2 separate regions of the Homo sapiens genome follow, and region 1 is linked to region 2. Evidence: fine-mapped expression QTL. A gene starts in region 2. The other region holds a variant in brackets. All regions are shown on one strand. Distances are from middle to middle. Region 1 overlaps CDK14 (cyclin dependent kinase 14). Region 2 holds the start of CDK14 (cyclin dependent kinase 14).

The links. PIP is the estimated chance that this variant, and not a neighbour inherited with it, causes the effect.
Region 1: its variant is fine-mapped to the expression of CDK14 in skeletal muscle (GTEx, PIP above 0.99).

Annotation. Positions count from the first base shown.
Region 1 is chr7:91,203,655-91,214,105 of GRCh38, forward strand. It overlaps CDK14 (cyclin dependent kinase 14), which reads left to right. Exons shown (of 15, transcript NM_001287135.2): 15 at 3,511-6,936. Among named protein-coding and RNA genes, the nearest start is that of FZD1, 56 kb to the right of the region's middle. The variant G/A (reference allele first, on the strand shown) is at 5,897.
Region 2 is chr7:90,589,848-90,600,298 of GRCh38, forward strand. CDK14 (cyclin dependent kinase 14) reads left to right here and starts at 6,474. Exons shown (of 15, transcript NM_001287135.2): 1 at 6,474-6,871. The coding sequence starts at 6,781. RefSeq lists silencers at 6,082-6,281, 6,302-6,611, 6,802-7,001, 7,062-7,111.

The DNA of each region.
Region 1 (10,451 bases), 610 kb after region 2:
TCCCATTTAGCTGGAGTGGGCAGGCTTCCAGGAAGAGCTGGAATCTCAACTGCTGTTTAAAGTACATGGAAGAAAAAGGACAGTTTTGTCATCTGCTTAATAAAAATGTGAAGGCTGATAGTGGGGTTGAGGATTGGCTGAGGATGCCTGTGGACAAATGTGCTTGAAGTACTATGAGGATGAGTGCTTTCTCTTCTTGATGTCATGGTCCTCAAAAAGATGCCAGTGCCTAGATCAGAATGCATAGTTACATGGAGCAGCATGTAGAGCACGTTCTTCGTTTCCCTGAAAGAACAAGGGTAGGCTGGGGACAAAGGAGTTTGTTCCCATGTAATTATTTTTGCTAGGGTGGTGACTTCTTTAAGAAGAGGTTTGATAAAGGTATATCTGCACAATCAAGCAAGGATGAGGAGTGGTCAAGTGAGCCTTATGGAGAACTGCCCACAAGCAGCAAGGATTTGAGATAATAACTGTTGGGATGTAGAGGTAGCAAAGGGCCTATGTGTGGTATCCATTTACCCCCAGGCCTCTCCTGGAAACTTAAGGCTTTTGTTTTTGAGGACAGAGAACTCTCAAGAATAGAAGGTTACCCCTACCTCATACCATATACAAAACTTCACTCAAAATGGACCAAAGATCTAAATGCAAGGGCTAAAACTATAAGACTCTTAGAAGAAAATATAGGGGTAAATCTTCATAACCTTAGATTTCACAATGGATTTTTAGATATAACACCAAAAATATAAGCAACAAAAGAAAAAAAAAGATAAATTGCACTTTGCCAAAATTAAAAACTTTTGTACATCAAAGGACACAGTTAACAGAGTGAAAAGGCAACCTATGGAATTGGAGAAAAATCATACTATAAGGGATTAACCAGAATGTGTAAAGAACTCCTACAACTCAACAACGAAAAGACAACCCAATTTAAAAATGATCAAAGGACTTGAATAGACATTTCTCCAAAGAAGATATTCATATGGCCAACAGCCACATGAAAGAGTCCCCAACAGCTTGGGCATGGTGGCTCATGCCTGTAATCCCAGCACTTTGGGAGGCCAAGGCAGGCAGATGGCTTGAGCCCAGGAGTTCAAGACCAGCCTGGACAACATGGTGAACCCCTGTCTCTACAAATATAAAAAATTAGCCAGGCATGGTGATGTGTGCCTGTAGTCCCAGCTACTTGGGAGGCTGTGGTGGGAGGATCAGCTGAGCCCAGGAAGGTCAAGGCTGCAGTGAGCTAGGATTACATCACTGCACTCCAGCTTGGGTGGCAGAGCAAGACCCAGTCAAAAAAAAAAAAAAGATGCCCAACATCATCGATCATTAGGGAAATGCAAGTGCAAATCAGTTCATACCCACTAGGATGGCTATAATTTTTTTTAAACAAACAAATGTTTTGGCAAAATTGGAACCCTTGTGCATTGCTGGTGGAAATGTGAAATGGTACAGCCATGATGGAAAACAGTTTGGCAGTTCCTCAAAAAGTTAAACATATAATTTCCATATGACCTAGCTATTCCACTTCTAGATATATACCCAAAAGAATGGAAAACAGTGTTTAAACAAATACTTATACATGAATATTCAGAGCAGCACTATTCACTATTAGCCAAAAGATGAAACAACACAAATATAAATCAACCAATGAATGGATAAACAAACTGTGGTATATTCATACAATAGAATATTATTCAACCCTAAAAAATAATGAAGTACTGATTCATGCTACAACATGGATGAACTTCAAAAACATCATGCTAAGTGAAAAAAGCTAGACAAAATGGGTAGCATATTATATGATTCCATTTGTATATCTAGAACAGGTAAATCCATAGAGACAGAAACATTAGTATTAATAGTTGTCAGGGGCTGGGACAAGGAGAGAATGGGAGTGACTGCTTAAAGGATATAGGATCTCCTTTGGGGGTGATGAAGATGTTTTGGAACTAAATAGAGATGATAGTTGCACAGCATTGTGAATGCACTAAATGCCACTAAATTATATTCTTTTAAATGATTAATTTTTTATATAAATTTTGCTTCAATTTTTAAAAAGAATGGAAAGTTAACTTGCCAGAAACTCACCATAGTAAGTGGGGGAAATGAGCAGATGGTGGAGAGAATGCTCTTTTTATTTTTATTTTTTTTATTTTTTTGAGAGGGAGTCTTGCTCTATTGCCCAGGCTGGGGTGCCGTGGCACAATCTCGGCTCACTGCAACCTCTGCCTCCTGGGTTCATGCCATTCTCCTGCCTCAGCCTCCTAAGCAGCTGGGACTACAGGCACACACCACCACGCCTGGCTAGTATTTGTATTTTCAGTAGAGACGGGGTTTCACCATATTGGCCAGGATGGTCTCCATCTCCTGACCTCGTGATCTGCCCGTCTCGGCCTCCCAAAGTGCTGGGATTACAGGCATGAGCCACCGTGCCCGGCCACTATTTTAATGGTTCCTGAGCATAGGAGTGGAATTTCTGCTATCTGGACAAGGTATTGCTGGGTTGCTGCTATGCAGGGGTGATGTCCTTGATGCCACAGCCTGTGTGTGCAGCAGCAGGACAGGTGCACTGTGAAGTCTCAAAAAAAGGACAAAACCTTTGGGATCAGGCACCATCCAGGGTTCCCCCTGCATCTGGGAAGATGACTCTATGGCCCTGTAGCTGGAGACATGAAGGCCTCACCAGGCCTTAGTGACCAGCAGCTTCTAAACTTAGCTAAGGAACTGGTTCTGGGATTCAGTGCAGCTAATGAACCGATCCCTCAGCTATGTGCCTTGAACCTGGGAGTGTTTCCACCCATCCTGGCAAGGCATTCTTTTCCCATCCTGGAGACTCAATGAAAATGCTTAAGGGCCAAAAGGAAGTACGGAAAGGGACAGAGTGAAGCTTCCTTCTTTTTGCTTGAACCATTCACCCACAAGTTGTTATTGTTTTAAGCAGGCATTATTGGAAACACGCAGTCCTATACAGGATGTTGGGAAGAGGCTGCCAATTCAGGTCACACTGGCCAATTTTCATTCTGCTGGAACTGAAATAATGATAATAGGCAACCAAGGAATTATATACAGCTGAATTTTTTTAAAAGCGTGTTTGTGATCCGTTTTTCTATTTCATGTTCATAAAAATGAACATAATGATACGTCCTTTTAATGGTCTGTATGATGCTACAGGCACTTAATTAAGACCAGTATTGCTACTAATGATTTAGGGAAGGAAATTTGCTGAATTTCTTTTTCTCTAAATATCCAAGAGGAAGATAGACCAATTCAGTTGGTGGAGTTAAATGATTTTAAGAGAGGAAAGTGTAGTCAGAACATTTGTTTATCATATTAGAAGGATTTTTTTTTGGTTAAGGAGGCTATTCTGCTTCATATTTATGTGTTTGGAGTGGCTGTGGGGAACATCAGTGGACTCACTTTGGACTGACCAATTTTGATGTTTCATGTAATTTAGAAGAAATGAATGGTGTAGATTTTTTATATAACAATTTTCTATTTTCCTCCTTCCAGGATTAAGTTGTCATCATTCTGGGAAGAAAAAAAAAACATTAATGAAGAGGCCAATAATATGAAGGGAATCATGGATCAGTTTTCTTTCGCTCCCTGTGGTGGATTTCACTTACAAGAAAATTGAAGCTGGCAAGACCCTGTTTTCTCTGCAATTTATTTAAAACCTTGCACGCATTTGGATACCTTGTGATTTCCAAGAACTACGTGAAGATTAAGCTTTGCTTACTGATACATGGCATGTATTCTTTTCAGTCTTTTGTGTTTGATTTTGTTTGATTTCCCTCTGCAGCACAGCGTCTCTGTAAAGGTTTTTATGCTTTCACCAGCCATGTCTTAAATACATTAAGACAACACATTTGGTGTTCACACTTCTTCAGTAATGTCTGAACTTGAAAGCCACAGAGTGGCATAAAACAATGTGTGTTTTCTTTGAGAGCAGTGCACATTTTGCAACCACTAGGAAGGAAATTTTCTGCTAAAGCAAACCCCTGTTCTCTGACTTGACAACTTGGCCCCGGACTGTGGGGCCCCACCTGTTGCTTACCTTTTGAGGTAATTTTGCAAATGTGGTTTTTTTACTTGGAAATAACTGCACATTTATATATAGGATATTGGACTCTGCTTAGCATTTTCAAGCCACATAGCATGACTGTTTTTTGAATAGGTTGGAATTGAAAAAACAATTATCAAACGTTAAGAACAAAGACAGGGATAAATTGCTTACATTTCAACCTCTGGAGATTGAGGTAACTTTTTGTGTCTGGGTCTTGTCAACATCTAATTTTTTTCCATCCATTCTGTTACACTTTGTATTTTCTAACTGGAGAAAAGAGTGAGGAACAGAATGTTTTAAATCTGGTGCAAAAGAACTATATCTGCTGGATGAGCCTTGAAAGCAGTCTTGGCCTGTTAGGGCTTACAAAGTAAATTACAAAGTGATCCAGTTCAAAGTTTGCTTAGTTACAACAAAGCACCTTTAAAAAAAATACATTTTAAAAAAACATTCCAAGCCAATTGGAAGACATCATTGGGTTCTTACTTTAAGACATCTCCTGGAATAACTGTTCAAATGCAGGTTTTAGAAACAATGCAGGAATCTTGCTTTAAAGATGAAAAAGGGAATGGGCCAGCTTCCCTTACTCAAGGAGTTGAGGGACCTTGGAGGATGAAGGCGAGTATGTGACACTGGAGAAAAGTGGACCAGGCATGTCTTTTGCTTTGATCTGGAGGGAGGGCTGCCTGATGCAGGCCGGCTCCCAGTGGGGCAGGCCTCGCTGCAGAATGCCCAGTAGTACTGCGGCCAAGGGGACAGTTAGGAGACTTCATCTAAAGCATGAAACCTAGCTCCTCTACACACAAATTCCTATGGAAATACCTTTGTGTACAGTGTCTTACATTTTCCTATTAGTCAGAAAGAAGGAGAGAATGAGTGAGTGCTTGAAATGTGTCATACTGTTTTAGGATCAAGACTAGGAATTAGGAGCCAGGTTGACAAGGACTTTTTCTGAGAGTTGGGTGAGGGTAAAGCTTTTCTATAATCAAGCTCAATACACCAAGGAAACTGGATCCAGAATTCCTAAACTTTAAAATGGTACTGTCTGCGGAGTGGAGTATGGATGGTTATGTCAAAGTCATAGTTCATCCTATCCAGATGTAGCATTCATGGTAAACTTTTAAGTGCTAAGCAAGGAATTATTTACTGATTGGTTTTAAAGAGAGCAGAAAACACCCAAGTGTAGAATGTCTACTGTTTGCTACCTAGAAATCTTTTCCATTCCTCTTTCATACATTCCAACCCACTGGAAGTCTTTAGAGGTATTTTGATTTAAAGTATACTTAAATTAGGATTTCTTAAAGAAAACATAGGGAGAAAACTTTACATGCAATTAAAAATGGACTTTCCTGTGATTTGTTTTTAATCATTCATTTGGAGAAGAGGCATGACCTTTGTATTTCACTAAGTTTAAAGCAAGAGCAACTGATGATTAAATGTTGCTTTTTAATAAGGTTTTTAACTTGAAAATTTGAAAATATTTAATGTTGAAAGACTTCAATTAGGGCTATTAGAGTTATATCTCCCTGTCGTAGGCAGCTTCTTCGGAGAAGTGAAATATAACATTACTCAGTGGACGGAGAAATCTGTTTTGTTACAGAGACATGCCTCTCAGAAGGTCAGGAGGTTTTGAGTACCTATCCTTGCCACCCATACAGGAAATCCAAAGTTTGGTGTCTCTCTCTCTCTGTCTCTTTCTTTCTCTTTCTCCCCCCAAACCCCTCTCACTCCCTCCCTCCCTCTCTCCTTCCCCTATTTGCAATCATATTCTCCCTCTGCTTCTTTTCTCTTCTGCCCTCCTTGTGGGCAGTCATGAAAATCAATTCAGACTGT[G/A]TTGATTAGCAGATTTATTATTCTATTGAGAAAGCACTGGAATGTTTTGTGAGATTATTTTTATATGAAGGAATAGCCTGAACTCAAACAGATGGTAAGAATAGTACAAACACCTTAGCACATCACTGCACACACAGTATTCTGAAAGGAGATTTGACACTTAATTCCCATTTTCTTAAAATAACAGTTTTGTTGACTTAAAAATATGAGATACATAGGATGTGAAAAAAAATGTTTGCAGTACTCAGCAAAAAATAGGGTACATAAAGCAGGGTGGCTGTCCATCCACTGATTCTGGGGTGAGAAGCGATTTCTACCTCGCAAGAGTGACTAGAAAGTTTCTAGGAGCACCTCCAGGCTTGCAAAGAAAGTGAGGCCTCTTGGTATCCTTTCCTCAGTGTGTATATGACAGCCAGTATAATCAATACCCTAGGTTATGCGTCTATATGATACTCATCTGTGAATATTATTGGTTTTGTAATCTTTGTTATATAAGAGGATGTTTAGGCTGTATATACTGGGGTAGATTATTGCCTGCCCCTTATACATAGGAATATGCTGCATAATTGCGCATAACTTCCATCTCCCTTACTGGCTTGTAGGCAGAGGAAACTGTATATGTTACTGCCTTGTACTTTTCTCATACACCAAAAACACACCAAAAAAATCAATAAAATAAGCAATCTTCTATTCTCATTCCTTTTCCCACAGCAGCATATTTTAGAGGCACATACAAAACCTACATTCTCTAGTTGGGAGTGGATTTTTAAAGTTTTCCTTTTATCTTTTATTTTTTTTTGTATGATGCACTGAGATGTGTACTTTCTAACAGGGGATTGGTACCTAAGAAATGTGGTAGCATTATTCAGAAAACTATTATACTTTCAAATGACACATAGTAAGGAGAATGGAATAATACATGTTGCATATTTGTTACCAGTTGTAATTTGTCTGTATTATGAAAGATGTAATGGTTTGTCAGCTGTCACTGTTGTTTTCTTGTAACATGATATGGAATAAAGTATAGCAGAATCTCCGTACATGTTCTAGGTACATCTTCTTGGTGGATGCCCAGTAAGAGCATATACCATATCAAAGAAACATTGACTTAAAAACCTCTTGAACACAACCATTCTTACACAGTGAAATAAGAACAAATACACAATATGTGGGAAGGAGTGAGTTATCTGGAATGGTCCAGGAGTCTGTTAAACCCTCCCCTTTCCTTGATTTGCTGTGCCAAATTTATGTAAAGGAGTAGAGACCATGCGAAACAGATCTGTGAGCTGCAGGATCTTCACAGTTCCCCCAGCCCCTTCCTGATGTTCACACATGTCACATGTTCTGCCCATCTCAGATGGATCTGGAGCCTTTCTGGTTCTGTTTAATGGCAGCCCTATTTATCTTTTATTGCCTCCTTCTCTATTTTTTGCACATATTCAAAGATGGGGTGAGTAGGTTACCCTCCACTGAATACAAATACAAAAGCTTGAGTGTACTGGTGTTCTGCAAGAAGCATGACTGTTCTTTCTGAACTGAGCTTACTTCCCTGAACACCACGCAGGAGGCATCTGCACCTGAAACTGCAGGGCATTCTTGGGATCCCACGTTTGGATTGACAGTGCCAACCTGGGAGGCCAGTCCCTTTTCCATCATCACCTTTTCCTTCTTGTCAGATATGTCATAACCCCAAACAGGCCCCCATGATTTGATAAATTGCTAATAATGTTCATGCCAGGTATTTGGTGACTTAAAAGTGTTCACGGGCTGGGCGCAGTGTCTCATGCCTATAATCCCAGCACTTTGAGAGGCTGAGACGGGTGGATCATCTGAGGCCAGGAGTATGAGACCAGCCTGGCCAACAAGGCAAAACCCCATCTCTACTAAAAATACAAAAATTAGCCGGGCATGGTGGCGGGCGCCTGTAATTCAGCTACTCGGGAGGCAGAGGCGGAGGTTGCAGTGAGCCGAGATAGCGCCGCTGCACTCCAGCCTGGGCAACAGAGAGACTCTGCCTAAAAAAAAAAAAAAAAAAAAAAAAAAAAAGTGTCTCACAAGTTCACGTTCCATGTTAAGAGGACCCCCAAGACTCCCAGCTTTCTTCTGGGCAGACGTTTACCCACCAGGAGCAGCTACCTGATGTTTTCCTTCACCTGCTCTTCTCCTGTAACCTCTGTGATTTCAGTTTGTAAACCCTTCGCACAAAACCAAACATAGGTGTCCTCAGCCGATGCATATTTCTCTCCAGAAAAGCTCATGAGAGTGACCGCATCTTCATCCCCCAAGTGCTTCTTCTATTTCTCCTGAAGCAGTAAATCGTCTATACACAGGCAAACGCATTTCCAGACAGTTGCTGCCTCCACTACTGGATTCTGGAACGGGAGAGTGCATGGAGGTAGACGTCACAGTAGCCAAGGTAGAGATAATAGGCACATTTCTTAGTTAAATGGGAGCCATAAATCACCCTTGAAACTGATTAGAATTAATAGAAGTGTGAAATTAGTAACTTGTTCCAGGGAGTTGTTTCGAGGGAGCAAAATGTATGGCACTGTTTCACCTCCTAACAGCCACAGTAGCCTGTAGGCTCATTGTTGAGATCACTCCCAGCAGCCTTGCAGCAAGGTCACATTTTAGAGATGTAATCACATCAGCTCTTAGTAGAAGAAAGAAGGGGATGGAGGGTAGATATCTACAAGAGGCCAAAGAAACACCTTTGAGAAATATTTTTAACTTTTTTAATGTGGCAGTACAAATGTCAAGCATCATCTCAGTTTCATAATTGCCCAACGTTCCTGTCTTTCAGCGGGGCCTATTCCAGCTCTGCCAGGTTGGAGGACGTGATGTGTGCTCACTGAGGCAAGCAGTTCGAGTCAGGAGGGCGGCACTCCTATAGTCGCTGTTGGCCTCCCGAGTAAAGAGAAACCAGAGGGGAAGGTGTTGGAGCAACCTTGTGCCACTGGGTTAACACGTACAGTTGCTGAATAATGGCGGGCATTGTAAATCTCTGCAATGAGAACCCCACAGTGGCCCAGCAGCCTGCTGCTACCAGTGGGTGGTGGCGTTATGGGCATTAGCTTTGAGAAGCTTATATAGCAGAGGGGGATAGGATAAAGGACACAAATCAGGGAAAAACTGACAAGATTAAAAAAAAATCCAAGGCCTCGTATTTACTGTTCATCCCCCATGCTCTCGGTGTGCTATATTGTCTGCGTTGAGTCATGCTGAGAGAGAGCCAGGCACAATAATAGCTCAGAGCAGCCTTGCAGCCCCAGAGCCATCCTCTGCCAATGGTGCTGACTGTGCTAGTGGAGAATGGGATTCTGATAGAGCTGTCTTTTTTCTCCTTCCCTGCGAGACCACCAATAATTATGGAGGGCATGCTGCACAGATGGCGTAAGGGTTCCCCGTTGGGGTGTATCCTGAGAAGTGACCCAGCAGGGGTCCCTGCAAAGCTATGTGCTACATAGCGCAAGGTGTGCCTGCCTGAGAGATGCGGATAATGCCAGGGATACATGTTTGAAACAACGGTTCAAGGGTTTAGAGAGGTTAAAATGGAACTTAGCTTATAAATCATACTACAGTGAGAAACAATTAGTCTTTTGCCCCCTCTCCATCTTCAACCAAATCTCATCACTGGGTACCTTTCTTCCTCAAGAAAGGCTGTAATCCACTAAGATTCCCTGGGAAAAGCAGGCCAGTCCTGCAACCATCTTGCTTAACATTTGGGAAATTCAGACCTTCATGTATTTATTCCCTTAGCCCAGTGGTTCTTAGTCCTGACTCTCATTTGAATCACCAGGAAGTTTTAAAAAAAAAACCCCACCCCAAACCATTCAAGAAATATTATGGGTGGCGGGGGGTCTGCTTGGAGAAATCAACAGGTGATTCTATTGTGCAGCCAGCGTGAGAACTGCTAGACTCTTCCTTTCCTCCTGCCTGTCTGCTACTCTAGGGTGAGGGTCAGGAAACTGTTTCTATAAGGGCCAGATAGTGAATACTCTAGACTTCCCGGGCTGCACGGTCTCTTTCCCAGCTACTCACTTTGCTGCTGTAGTGTGAAAACAGCCATGAACAATACATACATGAATGAGCATGGATGTGTTCCAATACAGCAATTTGTGGACACTGAAATTTGGGTTTCATATAATTTTTACATGCCACAAAATATTGCTTTTCTTTTGATTTTTTTTCTTTTTTTATTATACTTTAAGTTTTAGGGTACATGTGTACAATGTGCAGTTTTGTTACATATGTATGCATGTGCCATGTTGGTGTGCTGCACCCATTAACTCATCACTTACATTAGGTATATCTCCTAATGCTATCCCTTCCCCCTCCCCCCCACCCCACAACAGGCCCTGGTGTGTGATGTTCCCCTTCCTGTGTCCATGTGTTCTCATTGTTCAATTCCCACCTATGAGTGAGAACATGCAGTGTTGGTTTTTTGCCCTTGCGATAGTTTGCTGAGAATAATGGTTTCCAGCTTCATCCATGTCCCCACAAAGGACATGAACTCATCATTTTTTATGGCTGCATAGTATTCCATGGTGTATAT
Region 2 (10,451 bases):
GTAGTGTTTCTCATTTTTTATTTTTTAGAGAGAGGATCTCACTCTGTTGCCCAGACTGGAGTGCAGTGGTGTGATCACAGCTCACTGTAGCCTCAACCTGCTGGACTAAAGCCATCCTCCCACCTCAGGCTCATGAGTAGCTGGGACTACAGGTGCATGCCACCACACCTGACTAATTTTTAAATTTTTTTGTAAAGATGGGATCTCCCTATGTTGCCCAGGGCTGGTCTCGAATTCCTGGGTTCCAGCAATCCTCCTGCCTAGGCCTCCCAAAGTGCTGGGATTACAGGTGTGAGCCACCGTGCCTGGTCAGCTGTGTAGTTTTAGGAAATTAATTTGATTTCAGGCCAGGCATGGTGGCTCATGCCTGTAATCCCAGCACTTTGGGAGGCTGAAGAGGGTGGACTGCTTGAGGTCAGGAGTTTTAGACCAGCCTGACCAACATGGTGAAATCCGTCTCTACTAAAAAATACAAAAAATCAGCTGGGTGTGGTGGTGGGCACCTGTAATCCCAGCTACTGGGGAGGCTGAGGCAGAGGAATCGCACGAATCCAGGGGTGGAGGTTGCAGTGAGCCGAGATCGCGCCACTGCACTCCGGCCTGGGCGACAAAGTGAGACTCCATCTCAAAAAAAAAAAAAAAAAAAAAAAAAATTGATTTCAATGGACCTTAGTTTTTTCACCTGTAAAATAGGATCATAAAAGACAACTCATAGGGTGATGGTGAAAGTGGAGGTCTTCAATTGCCTAGTATGTAGCAATGATTCCACAAATGATAGTTTAAAAATGTTTATTTCGATCACTTACAAACACCAATTAGAGAGGAATCCTTTTTCCAAAGTCAGTTGTACATCTTTCAATACCACACTTTTAATTTCTTTCCTATAAGGTAGGAAAAAGCAAAATACAGTGTCGTAAGTTAAAAGTTTGGATGCATTTATTAACCTGTCTGAGTATGGCCACTTTCTTGAACTCTCTTTGCTTCAGAAGAGTTCCTTTCTATACAATAAGGACAATCATGATTATACCAAAGTATATCAAAAGAAAAAGAAGTGACTACCATCATGCAATCAAAATGCTTTATAAAAGGAAACATTTTGGTAAACAAGTGTGTGTCAATTTAGAACTGGAACCTGTGTAATGATCTTGGGCACATACTTTTGGCATTTCTAGGCCCATTTTCTTGTGTAACCTAGTGATAATGATAATGCCTCTTGGGGTAGTATGAGTTAAGATAAAATGAGATCATTAATTCATAGCCTATTATAAAACCACAAGTTATAATAGTAACATTGTACAGTTATAAATATTGAGTTATTTTAGCTAGAGAATGTCATATGTGCAATGATACTATCAATATGACTTCTATAGATACTTTTTTTTTTGGCTTGTAAGTGCTTGATTAGAATAGACATGTGAATGCAGATGAACTGTCAAAGGGCCTGGGAGGAAAGACTAGGATGTTTTTGATAGAAAAGGTGCATTTCTGAACTTAATTGTCCTTAACAGGACTTGTCTGGACTGCACAAAAGCCATAAGGTTTTAGTTCACTAAGGTTTTAGTTTCTGTCCACTTTCACATCCATGTCCAGGGTTCAATTACAGGGCTGGTCTCTGAAGTTTAGTTTTGATGAATGCAACATGATACATTGAAATTGATGCCATTCATGACTGAGGACCCACAGTTAATGGCACATCTGTACCACAAATACAAGTAATACCAAAAGCATTATTAAGTGAACTGTATCTTAGAATAGTGTTAGATGTTTTCTCGTATAAATGCCTATAGTACAAGTTATGTAACAATAAAAAACATGAATGATATGCATTATCATATTTAAGCACGGTTTAATGGGAGAGGGGAACTTACCAGTTTTTAATGCATGCTTTGACGCTGGTAGTTTATCTTCTGCAAACTATTCTGAGCTAATTTATGTTTAACATCATTTGGATGTTTTTACAACTTCTTTGTCTTTCTTACAGTCATTGGCAAGTAGATCAATTTACTTAGGTCCCTTGGTCTCTTGAGATGTAGGATGAAAAAATGTACAATTACCTATAAAATAAGCAAATGTAGGTCTCATTTTCGAACAAGACTGGAGGTTTTGTGTCAGCAGACAGTGATTTCTGTAAACGTGAAAAGGCTCTGAATTAGGAAGGAGTAGGCAAAGGATGGGTGGTGGAACAAGGAGGAGAGATGAGGGAAGCCTTCATTGACCTGAGTTGTGAATACACTGGTTTCTGGAACCTTCCATTTTACTCCCCTTTCTGATTTCAATTTGCTCTTTGTCAAAGAAAAAAAAAAAAGAACTCTTTAAGTTTGGATACTGTCCAATAGTTGGAACATAAGGGTTGGTGACAAGAGTTTTAGAGTCAATGTACCAATTTTACTGATGACTCACTGAGAACTTTGTACAAGTCACTTAACCTTGTGTTACTTCAGTTCCTGATGTGTTCAAAAAGGATAAATTTGATCCTAAAACTAGTTAAATAGGTTGACTATTTAGAGCTCTAAGAGGATATTTAATAATGTAAATGTCTACCACTTTAATAATTATACTCTGGCACTATGTCTTAATCTTTAACTATCTATGCTTTGGCTAAATTCTAAAACTTTACATTATAAACATATCTTTTTGAAACTCATTTTCCAGCTCTATTCTTCATGTTCTTGGTATCCTTGTTTCATGGATTTCTTTTCTCTGATAATATTTTAAAAACTGTTTCAGATCAATAAGTCTGCTTTTGCTGGAATTTTGGATTCTAATTAAATCCTTTATATTTTATCTTACTTAAATTAGGATTCTTTCCCTTATAATCTACTACCAGCATACTAGCCTGATATTTTTCTTATGTGGAAAATATCCACATTTTATTTTATAATAAAAGCATAATGTATATGTAATGTGACTAGAAATGATGTATCTTAAATTTCACATAATTTTTGGCAATGAATCCTTGTCTATCTTATTTGTGTATGACTTACTCTTCATTAATATATCTATCTATAGTATATAAGATGGAAGAGGGAAAATTTCATCATTACATTTTATTTATCTATTAGAGATGGGTTCTTGCTGTGTTGCCCAGGCTGGTCTTAAACTCCTGGGCTCAAGAGATCCTCCCACCTAAGCCACCTGAGTAGCTGAGACTGTAGGTATGGGTAATTGCTTCTGGCTCACCATTAACTTTAGAATTAGAATTTTGCAGCTATGAATGGACCTAGAGGTTATCTAGTTCAAGCCCCTCATTTTATAGATAAGAAAATAGGTAAATCACTTACTTGTCTAAGGCTACAATGCACCTAGTGATAGACAGTAGGGACTAGAACTCATGAGTCCTGGGTCCCCAGCCACTTTTGTTACTACTGAACTCCAATACACTTGTATCCTTTAATTGGTGAATTTGGTTAAGGTCAACCCATGTTGGGTTCAGCCTCTAGATAAGCTTATCTCTTTGTACTTGAACACTGCACCTTTAATTCAGGCCATGCAAAACTATAACCTTGTAAACCAGAAGTTGAGATGGAGAACTGGCACAGATCCATTCTCCTACTGAAAAAACATGCTACACAGATGCTGGATAGTCATCTTTGTTTCCAAGGACAACACATCACTTCTCAGAGATAGCAATCCATTCTATATTTATTTGACAAACATTAATTTACATTCTCTATGCAACAGGCACTGTGTGTTTCATATCTTAGGGTCCCTGAACTTACACTGTTTAAGATGAAGGCAAATGTGAAACAAATAATAGTAGAAAGAGTTGAATAAGTATACATATCTTAAAAGCGTCAAGTTAAAAATGTCCTTCTTTGCATTGCAGTTTCTTGCAAAATTTGCTCTTTTAAAATATAACCAGGAAAGGGAGCAAGATGAGCATATAATGGAAAGTTGGTTACTCATAATTGCCAAGCTTTATTTGGCCCAGGCTTAACAGGTGTTTCTCCTGCCAGGTATACTGTTGTAACTAGAGGAAGTTGTTCTGGAGTTGGGAGAGCTGAAGTTTTGAAGTGGGGTAGGGAAAAGGAAAATATTCATTATGTTTATATTAGTATTTTTATTATTATAAAAGTAAAGCATTCTTAGAACATTCAAACTATACTTAAAGGTATAAATTGCAAAGGGAAAAGTTCTCTCTGTTCTGGATATACAATCAACAGTTTTCTGTTCTTTTTTCCAGAAATATTCTATGCATATAGGAACACATAGATGTGTATACATTTTTTCCACAAATGGTTTAAAATATTAAACATGCTTTTCTCCCAAATTAGCCTGTACATATTCACACATCAGTACACACTGATCTCATTTAAGAAAATTGGTGCATACCTTTGTATGCTTTTACCATAATTTAAGAAGAAGCTGACTACTTTTTTTAAGTCAGAAATACTGGGAAGGGGAAGAGCATGGTGGTGGTGCACGCCTGTAATCCCAGAACTTTGGGAGGTCAAGGCGGGCGGATTGCTTGAGCTCAAGAGTAGGAGACCAGCGTCGGTAACATGATGAAACCCCGTTTCTACAAAAATTAGCCAGGCGTGGTGGTGCGCACCCGTAGTCCCAGCTATTTAGGAGGCTGAGGTGGGAGGATGGCTTGAGCCCAGGAGAGAAGGTTGCAGTCAGCCGAGATGGCGCCACTGCACTCCAGCCTGGGCGACAGGCCCTGTCTCGGAAAAAAAAAAAAAAATACTGCGAAGGTAAAATAAACATATATTTAACATATTATATATTTGAAACAGCCATTGTCACAGTGGATAACAGTCACAGGTGTATAATAGTGAAAGTTCGTTAAATTAATATTTCTTCGTGTTTGTTGACTCGTACAACCCATTAGTGTTTTGATTGGTTGCATTTGTCTTTTCATTCATAACTGCTGAAAACTTTCTCCCTAACTAACCTGAGGAAGTGGTAAAAGTCAAACTTTTTTCCGGTATGAGGCCACCCTTGGTGCTGTCTGTAATTATCTAGACATGGCAGCCAGGATCCAACAGCTTTGCGTTTTAACTCATATGGTCTTTCCTGGCGAATTCCTTGCCCCCCTCTGCTCCCCACTTAGCTTGACTTCCTGTCTTTTATCATCCGCAATCTATCAAGATCCTACAATGTGCTCAGTGTAGGGCGGAACAAATCACTGTTTTACCTCACAATTTAAGGAAGGCAGGGGGCTAGTTTTTAAGATAAAAATCTTTTAACAAAACATAAACTCCCCAAAATTTCCTACAAGCCAAACAGCATTGTCACACCCTCACAAGCTCTTATTACTTACACAGCCAAATGACTCAAGATTACTAACGTTTCTATTCATAAGGAGTTTGCTGGCCTCAGATCAACACAATCAAGCCCTCCCCCACCTTCCTTCTCTCTCCCCTGGGAGACTGACGTTTGGAACTCACGCCGCACCAGGTTTTTTCAGAATGAAGACGATGTGTGTTCGCTGCTGGAACTGTTTGTCCTGGGATTTTATAAACACCTCCCCCACTCCTTTTTAAAGTTCTGTTTTTGAGGTGGGGGAAAAGGAGGTCGGAATCTGTTTAGCCTTTAAATCTCCCAATTCAGAAATATATTCTAAGAATTTAATAGAAAAAGACCAAGGGCTGTGTCTGCTATTTACTGCAGAACTGGGTATTCCTATCAGAAATCACCTACATGTGTCACCAAGATCAGAGACAAGGATGAGGGAAACAGCATGATCCCTGCCTTCTGGAGGGTTACAGTTGAAGCTTCCGCTGCTTCTGCACTTGACCTCAAAACAAACAAAAAACCCACCGCAAACAACAACAAAAAAATCCAGGCCCACCTTTCCCCTTGGATCTTTCACTTGACAGCTTTCTCGGCCCAAAATAAGGCACCCTACATCTGAATGCATCCCTAAGGCCTTACCGCACCCAGTCCAGGAGGCAGTCCTGGCAGCTGCCCTCCACCGAACTCCGCGCTTTTTCACACACGCTCGTGGAAGGAGAAAACCGCTCAAACAACTGGACTCGGCCCGTTTCCTTTCGGTAACCTCCCCACAGCCCAACACGCTGTCCCCAGACGCTGCCCGCTCCCACCCCGGTCCCTTCGTGATCCTCCCGCGCGCGGGCGGGGCGGGGGAGGAGCGCGGGGGCGGCCGGGAGGGGCGCGGCCGGGAGGGGGCGCCGCCGGGGCGCGAGCCAGACACAGAGGGCCGCGGAGGACGCGGGAGGCGAGCGGGGAGCCGAGGTCGTGCTAGGATCCCGCGCCCAGGGGCCTTCGTCGAGGGAGGGGCGTGGCGGCGGCAGCAGGAGGGCAGCAGGAGCTGTCAGGCTGGCGGTTCCGCGCCGCGGCTCCTTCTGCGCTGCGCCCGCAACTCTGGGCTGAGAACTTCTCCCGCCGGCCCACTCGCCCTCGCCCCGCGCACTCGGCGCCAGGCGACTCCCGCACCTTGTACCCGGCCCGCCCCGCCTCCTCCTTCGGCCGCACCACTCCCCCTGCCGGCCGCGCTTCTCTCCGTTACAAAGGAGGGAAAATGAGCCGGGCGGCGGCGGCGCGGCGCGGGGCCACCACGGCGGCGGCGAGCGCGGCCGCCCCCGGCACCACGTAAACCGCCCCCGCCCGCCCAGCTGCGGCCCAGGCCGGAGCGGAGCCTGCCGTCCTCCGCCTGCCTGCTGCTCGCCTCCCTAGACCTGCGCGTCGCTTCCCGGCCCGCCGAGGAGGTGGTGGAGGAGGAGGCGCCGCTTTCCCCGCGGCGCGCGCCCTCGCCGTTGTCTGAGCTGTGCCTGGACCAGTTTGGGGAAGTTGTCGGGGCTCCGCGTCGCCCAGATGTGTGACCTCATTGAGCCGCAGCCGGCCGAGAAGATCGGCAAGATGAAGAAGTTGCGGAGAACTTTGTCGGAGAGTTTCAGTCGCATTGGTGAGTAGCGCGCTGCCCCCGGCCCCCCCAGCGCCCGCTCCCCTCGGCCTGCGCCCCCGCCGCGTTCCTGGCACCAGCCATGCAGCTGCCAGCGGGGCTGGCGTGGGGTGCGTTGTAGGCGGGGATCGAGGGCACAGTGCTAGGGACCCGGGGGAGGGCAAGGACGTAAAGGAAAGAGACCCCTCTTCCTCAGGATCTGGGGGTTCATTTGTAGATTCTCTCAAGCCTACAATATGGGTTCTCCCCTCCTCCGCCACTAGTGCTCGCCCTTTCGCGCGCGTGGGGGACGGGCGAGGGGACCCCTCGGCCCCCACCGCGCAAGGGGCTGCGCGGCTGCTTGGGCCACTTGTTATTTTTTGCGCACAGGCTTGGATATTGGGCGTTTAGTCAGTAATTTAGCTTTGGAAATTGGTGAAACGTTAGACTGTGCCCTGGTATTGTTTAACGTATCCAACCTAAAGGGAAGTGGGACAGTTACCTTGGGACCTATTGTTCGGTACTTCGGGTCCTGGAAAGCGAGATTTGGGTGTTCAGTCTCGAGGTCTCTGAATCTTCCCGCTGCTGGAGAGAAATGCGCGCTGTGGAGTTGTCTGGACATTTAGGAATGTCTCTCGAACTTGTTCCATTTAATAGAGCTCAGGGGCTGTTGTCTTTAAACCAAACAACAAACCAACTGACCAACAGTGTTTAGGACAGTGACGAATAAATGCATGTCACAGGTTGTAATAGGGTGACAGCAGTATCACGTGGAATGGGTTTGTTAGATTTTGAGTACTGGGCATAGAAAACCCCTTTTAACCTGAAGAGTTAGCTGCCTCCCCTACTGTCACAACTTTCACTAATAACATGTAACTGCCCTGAGCAAGAGAATGCTATAGACACAAAAGATAACCCCTGCGAGTCCCTAGGAAGCTGCCTAGTCTTTGTTTCACTTGTTTTAAATGTCATCCATGTTAACGAAAGTGTTAATGGAAATTAAACATAAAGGTACTTAATTCCTTAAAATAAAACCCTGGGATGCACATGAGTGTTACAGATATCCTTCCACCCATTCATTGTAAGATATGCAAACTTTCTTCAAGTGAGAGAGTACAATGGATCGAAATTTAGCCAAGTTTTTTTTTTTTTTTTTGTCTTTCGACTTAAAATTTTGTGTTGGTATGCAAAATCTTTCCCCAGATGACTGTAAAGTTATGGTATGAAACCAATCTTTAGTTTTATTTATTGCATGTATTGGATATTAATTTCACTCTTCAGAATTAGGGATACATGTGGAGAGTCCCTGCATTAAGATGAAGTTTGAAGCCAAGAAGAGTGTGAGAGAGGGAAATGTTGAGTCGTGTGCATTATTAACGAGGATGTTTCAACCCTGACCCAAACCGTCGCAGAGGCGGGTTCTGGAGTCCATTAAGCCGTGTTCTAAAACACATTAACTATATATTTACTAATGCTAATGATTCTGCTGGAGCCCCTCCAGTTTTGTGTTAAATAATTCATTGCAATTGAGTCTCAGTAAGAAACCAAGGACATTAATCTAAAAGTTCCTTATATTTAAATAATTTCAAGGTTTTGATCGACAATCAGTAAAATTTGGATTAAGTACAGTGCTGGCAAATGGGGGTATTATAGTTAATTGGATTTTCTAGCTTACTGAGATTTAGTGATGTGAAACTCCTTTTGAATCCAACTCTTGTTAAAATGTCTTCTAAGAGCTGGTGGATTTTATATCCTCCCTTTAGGACACAGAATGCAGTGCAGTGAGCACAGCTGATTATTTCTTGTATTGATGGAAAATATGATTCTGAATCGTAGATCTCATTATGGAGTATTGTAATAGGAGATATTGAAGTGATTATAGTTGTATACCAAGCCAACGACATTCAAAGTAGCATTACAGAAACAAAATCTGTATCTTCTTATTTTCTTGATGTTTTATATTGTATTTGCAAAATTAAAACCAGTGAACTCATTCTGATTATCTAAGGATTTTTTTTTTTTTTTTTTGAGACGGAGTCTCGCTCTGTCGCCCAGGCTGGAGTGCAGTGGCGGGATCTCGGCTCACTGCAAGCTCCGCCTCCCGGGTTCACGCCATTCTCCTGCCTCAGCCTCCCAAGTAGCTGGGACTACAGGCGCCCGCCACTACGCCTGGCTAATTTTTTGTATTTTTAGTAGAGACGGGGTTTCACCGTTTTAGCCGGGATGGTCTCGATCTCCTGACCTCGTGATCCGCCCGCCTCGGCCTCCCAAAGTGCTGGGATTACAGGCGAGAGCCACCGCGCCCGGCCTATCTAAGGATTTTTAAGGCGCTAGAGGTTGTTGAGTTGAGGGCTTACTGTGGGATTATATAGTGCATGAGTTAAGAATGTGGGCTGTGTGTCACACAGACTGTTTCCCATGTTGCCATGCCCAGCCAAGGTCTCTCAACTTCTCTGAGCTTCAGTTTTTCATGTACAACTCAGTTTCGTTGTTGGCTTTTAGTGAAATAATGCATACCATGTCTTGTGTGGCACATTAAATAAAGACTCAGTAAACGTTCAAGATATGTTATCATTGTTTTTGTTATTATTAGGAATTCCATCATACTGACATAACTGATCTTATAGATAGAAAGCAAGAGAAGAGGGAAGTGGCCATTGACTTTGTAGTGTAGCCAGCCTTAAAACGGAGTTAGGCAGGCCTGGATTTGAACTGGGTTTTCGCTGCTTGCTCTGTGCCAGTGGAATTTTGCAGCCGGTGGAATTACCCTAAAGCCCAGAGTCCTCATCTGTAAATATTCATATACGGTGAATATATGTGAAGACTAAATCGGATAAAACACCTGAAAAATCTAGTGCAGTATCTATCACAAGGTGAAGGTCAATACCATAGGCTGTCATTGTTCCTTGCAATTTCTGTTTATACCCCATCATCCTCCTTTCTTCATTGGTACTTCATGAGGAGATCGAAGAGTGAATGGTTTATTCTTGTTGAATAATCCACACTGCAACATATTCATTCTCTTTAACCAATCTAAGCTTTTGAAATAGACATGCTGACTTTATTTTGCTGCTTTAGTATTATCCAAAAGTGTAGCTTGTTGTATGGTGAAATGTACAATACTATTATTTAGCTGTAAGAAATTATTAATCATTCATCTATTGAAAATGAGGAAATATTTGAAAGTATCTGATGTCTGGTCAGTGTTTATCATTAATAATAATAATTCTAAATACATAAAGCAGTGCTAATGTTTAATTTGTTTACACATTAGAGATCATGCTGACTTTGTCACTGCCCACCCCAAATACAGCTGAGCTGAGATTACTATATTATAAAACACATGGCTTTCAAGCCATAGTGCTCTAATTTATGACATCTGCCAGGGAATGACTATGATATAGTTATGGTTCTTTTATAAGATGAGTGTAATTGAATTTTAAAGTCACCCATCAATTTCGGTAGTATTTATGGTTTTCTACTAAATAGTGTCAGCGTGGTTCCTTATTTAGGAATTACTACAGTTGTCTCACACTTTTTTTTAAAATTTAGGCTAACAAAGACAAATGGGAATTTAATTATTGAGTAGTTTAAGTATTTTAAA